Regions from separate parts of the Homo sapiens genome. Here region 1 is linked to region 2. Evidence: fine-mapped expression QTL. A gene starts in region 2. The other region holds a variant in brackets. All regions are shown on one strand. Distances are between the middles of the regions. Region 1 overlaps TRIM2 (tripartite motif containing 2). Region 2 holds the start of TRIM2 (tripartite motif containing 2).

What was found. PIP is the estimated chance that this variant, and not a neighbour inherited with it, causes the effect.
Region 1: its variant is fine-mapped to the expression of TRIM2 in spinal cord (GTEx, PIP above 0.99). The same link has a PIP of 0.9 or more in substantia nigra.

The regions. Positions count from the first base shown.
Region 1 is chr4:153,293,877-153,296,791 of GRCh38, forward strand. It overlaps TRIM2 (tripartite motif containing 2), which reads left to right. Exons shown (of 12, transcript NM_015271.5): 5 at 429-609; 6 at 1,437-2,160. Among named protein-coding and RNA genes, the nearest start is that of MND1, 49 kb to the right of the region's middle. The variant G/A (reference allele first, on the strand shown) is at 1,682.
Region 2 is chr4:153,203,056-153,205,970 of GRCh38, forward strand. TRIM2 (tripartite motif containing 2) reads left to right here and starts at 1,388. Exons shown (of 12, transcript NM_015271.5): 1 at 1,388-1,505. The coding sequence starts at 1,476.

The DNA of each region.
Region 1 (2,915 bases), 91 kb after region 2:
TGGTATCACAACTGTGTGTTTTGGCAGGGGGTTGGGGAGAGGGAGGCAGGGCGGGGAGAGCTATTGGTATCTGGTAGAGGACAGGCTGCTGTTAAACATCATACAATGCACCAGACGGCCCCTGCAACGAAGAATTAACCTGGCCAGAATGGCTTTTCAGAGAGCTTCAAGTCTATACACTTAATTAATTATTAAAATTGGACAATTGATGGTAGATTGAAATTGACAATTTTGATTGTCTCTGAAGAGACAAAATCTCTTCTCTCTAAGGCAGTAATTATGTCATATCTTATTCTGTTCTCTGGTTATTGTTTTTTTAAAGATGATGAAAGGCATAGAATTTTTTTAAACAAAATGTAGTGTTTAGATAGATTTTGGAATATTTCTGGGTTGAGGTTAAATAACGACCTTTAACAACTGTCCACCAGGCTCCCAGAAATAGATTCTGCTCTTCAGTTCATCTCTGAAATCATTCATCAGTTAACCAACCAAAAGGCCAGCATCGTGGATGACATTCATTCCACCTTTGATGAGCTCCAGAAGACTTTAAATGTGCGCAAGAGTGTGCTGCTTATGGAATTGGAGGTCAACTATGGCCTCAAACACAAAGTAAGACCAGAATCATTACAGATGTCCTGGAAGAGACATGATATCCAAGGGCACTAGCTTATTGTTTCCTAATAGCAACAAGGGGTCCTTAAGTGTCATCATTGTATAGTAAACTATAGTTTTCACTGAATGTAATATCCAGCTATTTTTTCCCCTATTTTCAGCAAAATTCGATGACTCTGTGACTTTAAGTACTAGTTTATAATTTGACAAGAGGCAAGGTTGAATATAATGTAATGCTTTTAGCATTTAGAGTTAAACTGGATTGTTTTCATTCCTCAGTTATAACATGAAATAGTTTCTTAATTGCTCTCTCACCCACACCAACCTGTTAGTCAGCTTCAAAATGAACCCTGACTGCAGCCTTTGTTTAACTCTGCATGTCTGTTCACAAAACAGGGATGAGAAACCTCTGATGTTCAGGTGTGGAGAGTTTTCATTTGTTTACTTCCTGTTCCTTTAGGTGGTGATGGACATGGGGACATGGGGAAAGATACTGAATAATGAATATTTCAGATGTCAGGCATAGCAATTAATTTGCTATGCTCTTGGTAGTGACCTTTCTGTTTTCCCCTCTCCAAAACACATGAGCCAAGAAATACATGTGTGGAAGAGAGGGCGAGGCGGAAGGGAAACCTCGAAAAGGTACTGGGAATGCAGTTTAGGACTTTGCGTTAGCACTGGGTTCCCTGGGTTGACAAACACCGCTTGCTCAGAGCCACCTGCGTGGGCAGGTGTAGAGTCTCCTTCTCGCCGGTGGAGGGCACTGCCCCGGGCTAGGCCCCGCCCTGTGGGACGAGCTCACCAGGCCTCCGGTTTTCCCGCAGGTCCTCCAGTCGCAGCTGGATACTCTGCTCCAGGGGCAGGAGAGCATTAAGAGCTGCAGCAACTTCACAGCGCAGGCCCTCAACCATGGCACGGAGACCGAGGTCCTACTGGTGAAGAAGCAGATGAGCGAGAAGCTGAACGAGCTGGCCGACCAGGACTTCCCCTTGCACCCGCGGGAGAACGACCAGCTGGATTTCATCGTGGAAACCGAGGGGCTGAAGAAGTCCATCCACAACCTCGGGAC[G/A]ATCTTAACCACCAACGCCGTTGCCTCAGAGACAGTGGCCACGGGCGAGGGGCTGCGGCAGACCATCATCGGGCAGCCCATGTCCGTCACCATCACCACCAAGGACAAAGACGGTGAGCTGTGCAAAACCGGCAACGCCTACCTCACCGCCGAACTGAGCACCCCCGACGGGAGCGTGGCAGACGGGGAGATCCTGGACAACAAGAACGGCACCTATGAGTTTTTGTACACTGTCCAGAAGGAAGGGGACTTTACCCTGTCTCTGAGACTCTATGACCAGCACATCCGAGGCAGCCCGTTTAAGCTGAAAGTGATCCGATCCGCTGATGTGTCTCCCACCACAGAAGGCGTGAAGAGGCGCGTTAAGTCCCCGGGGAGCGGCCACGTCAAGCAGAAAGCTGTGAAAAGACCCGCAAGCATGTACAGCACTGGAAAACGAAAAGAGAATCCCATCGAAGACGATTTGATCTTTCGAGTGGGTAAGGAGAGGGCTTCTGTGCCCGACGCCTGAGCTGGCACTGGTTAAGGGGTAACTGGGCACGTGTCATTGCAAATAGCAACACTGCAGCCCAGAACTCTACCTGCAGGTGTTAGGAGATGTACTGCTATAAAATTTGATATATTTTGTTAGTCGAGCTTATGCAGTCTCCTCCAGAGATGGTATTTCCTTCTCCTCCGCCTCTAGTCTCCTCCCTACTCCCTCCTTTCTCTTCTTCCTCTTCCTTAAGACACAAGTGCTGCATATTCATTGTAGGAAATTACAAGCTGAAAATAAGCAAAAAGAGAAATAGAAAAATCATAGCACCCGTAATCTGAAAATCTTGAAGGAAAAATTGGCAATCCTCCCCCTAACCCCCACCACCAACGCCCCTCTTCCCTGGGAGGGTCTTCTTGTGCCAGAGCTGAGGCTGTACGGTTGGCAGAGCATGTGATGCCTCCCTGTCACTGCATCGGCATTGCAGGAGGGAGGGGATGTGTGCATTGCAAGTTGCAACCACCTCCAGCTGTGTGTAGCTGGAGAGCAGCCCCAAGGAGAGGAGGAGGGGTGGAAACTTGGAGAAAGAATGGGGTTGAGGCGGGGTTGGGGTGGAAGCAAGAAGGTACCCGATGAGCCAAGAGAGTTAGGAATGCAAATAGCCCTTCCCTCCTCTGATTTATGGTCTCTCTCTTTTTAAACTTTCTATGTTCTCAGTAGAAAGCAACTAAATGTAAACAGCAAAGGGCTTGATGATTC
Region 2 (2,915 bases):
GATTGTGCCACTGCACTCAAGCCTGGTGACAGAGCGAGACTCCATCTCAAAAAAAAAAAAAAAAAAAAAAAAGTGGAATTTAGTTAAGTTTGGGAGACAGAAAGAAGCCACGGCTCTCCTGCCTTCTTCCAAATATACTGAACTTCTGATATGTTTGATCAAATGAAATGCTCATGGTCTGGCATGATTATAGGTGCAAGCCTGTAATCCCAGCTACTAGGGAGGCTGAGGCAGGAGGATGACCTGAGCCCAGGAGTTTGAGGCTACAGTGCACAATGATTGTGCCTGTGAATAGCCACTGCACTCCACCTTGGGTGATATAGTGAGACCCACATCTCTACACACACACACACACACACACACACACACACACACACGAAGAAGAACATAAACACATCAAATGTGAGCCATTTTGCTGACTTGGGCATACAATAAATCCATATCTCTGGGTTCTAAAGATGTACCAATCTTGCAGTGAGCTGAGATCACACTACTGCACTCCAGCCTGGTCAACACAGCAAGACTCTGTCTCAAAAAAAAAAAAAAAAATAGTAGACCAGGCGCAGTGGCACACTCCTGTAATCCCAGCACTTTGGGAGGCCAAGGCGGGCGGATCACTTGAAGCCAGGAGTTCAAGACCCACCTGGCCAACATGGCGAAACCCCGTCTCTACTAAAAATACAAAAATTCACCAGGTGTGGTGGTGCATTCCTGTAATTCCAGCTACTCAGGAGGCTGAGGCAGGAGAATCACTTGAACCCAGGAGGCTACGGTTGCAGTGAGCCAAGATTGTGCCACTGCACTCCGGCCTGGGCAACAGAGCGAGACTCCATCTCAATAAATAAATAAATAAATAAATAAATAAAATAAAGATGTGCCAATCAAACAAGTGTTTGCTCTGTAGATGAGGTGAGTGCTCCTGATCAGATAGTATATTCAATAAAATAAGCATGTCATCAAACTAACTTTCTTGGCCTTTGTTCTTTGGTTGAAAAACTCCCGTTGACCTCATGAATACCACATTTATTAACCCCGGAAGACAACAGATAGCTAATGCAACATAAATATCTGTGGCTTTAAAAATACATATTATTATGTGTGCAGTCTACAAACACTTTCCTGAAATTGGTCTTCTGTGGGCAGTGATTTAAACTTTTCAACTTGGACGCTTTTCCTACTGGGGGCTGTAAAGATGATAACTCAGCCCTTACTCTTCAGTGTTTCTCATTCCCGTCTCCCCTACTTCGGAATGAAACACAATATCTTAAGCAAACAGAGCCCAAAGAGGCTGATCATTGGCTCTCATTGTCCCCTGATACTGTAGCCCCGCCCCTTTGGCTTGTGCTGACTAGCTGTTTATATTTTAGTAAGGGCCACCCTTTAACTCGGCAGCTTGATGACTATAATGGGCCCAGTTGTCTGCGGGCTGCGGGGAGCTAAGTCCCCAGATTGGAGGAGGCTGGCTCTGGTCTTCGATGCACAGGAGTGGCCGTTATGGAACGCAGGTAAGGACGCTTCTCAATGTGGGATAATTCTTTTTCTGGGCCAGCTGGTTAATCCGGGGCTGGGAGAAACAAGTTGTGATTGGGTTGCTACTTTTTCCTGGTTTTAATTTTTTCCCTGCAGAAGAGGGAAGGAAAAGACTGGGATTTGCTGACAAAGCTCACAGTGAGCTCTGTTAATCCAGGCAGGAAGGGAGTAAGGAAGCAAAAAATCGAGGGAGAGACACAGCTGGATTTGACACCAAAGCAACATGAATGTGGCAAAGCATAAGGCCAGTTCCAGTGATGTTGTGAGACTCAAATGCTGTTTTATTTCCTAACATAGGTAGTCACAGTCAGGAGCTTAGCTGGGCCTCTCCGGGGTTTCTGTAAGCCAGCTGCTAGCCGATGTAACTCAGTCGACCCCATTTGAAAGGACCTAATATCTGCTAGTATTTTCAAAGGGCAAACTGTAGTAGTCTTGCATGTTATAAATAGGTCTATTCAGAAATGTGGGAACAGTTTAGAGCAGACAGGAGACTGTAAAGTTTTACTGCCCCATAAAAGTGCTCAAAGGGTACTATGTCCCTCTGCCGTGCGACTGTGGAATGAAGAAATAGCCCCAGGTGAATAGAGCGTTTGTCCTTGACTACCCAAGTGAGAAGTCAGCAGAGCCTGGGGACGCCATGTGAGTCGGGGGTGAAGCCTGATGTGGGCTCAGCCAGCCACACCTCGGGGTGCTTGCTGGTTTCCGGGGTGTGAATGGGTGAGGGTGGAAAACCACTCAGGCACCGGTCTTTGGTGCCTGCTTTATCTCTTGGCTGGCCCATTCGGTGCTCAGTGAGGCACCTGTCGTAGCTCACGGGGTGCGCAAAGGGCAAGGAAAGGGTTGTGCTGTCATTGCGACCTGTAAGGTGGGGAGGGGGCTACAACATCTCGAGTCCTGGGAGTTGCTTTAGAAAGTCCTCCTCCTCCTGCTGAAAAAAAGAATCACCTACGGCAGCTTTGATCAGATAAGTTTCTGGTGAGCCCCGTGGTGTGGAGTCAGTGAACTTGCGGTTTGTGTTTGTTATCGACAGGAGCCTGATAAAATGAAAAGGTGAGGTTTAATTTTTACATAAAGCTAGAGGTGAACCATGGGACTTTAATACATTTAATGCTTTGAAAGTCTCCCCACCTCTCCAAATTCCCTCAACTTGTATCTATTATCTAGGTACACCTTGTTTAAAGCCACCATGCTGTTTGCGGATCCTGGAGGTATTAAGTCAGAATACAAAGGGTGTTTTTCAAATGAATTTGACGCCAAGCAACATGAATGCTTGAACCCATTGTATGAAAACAGGCAGTCTCTAAGTGAGGCCAGGTTCTCCTGGTGCGGTCCTAGAGCCCTGGAGAGGGATGAGTCACCCCACGAGGAGGTCCTGACAAGGAATG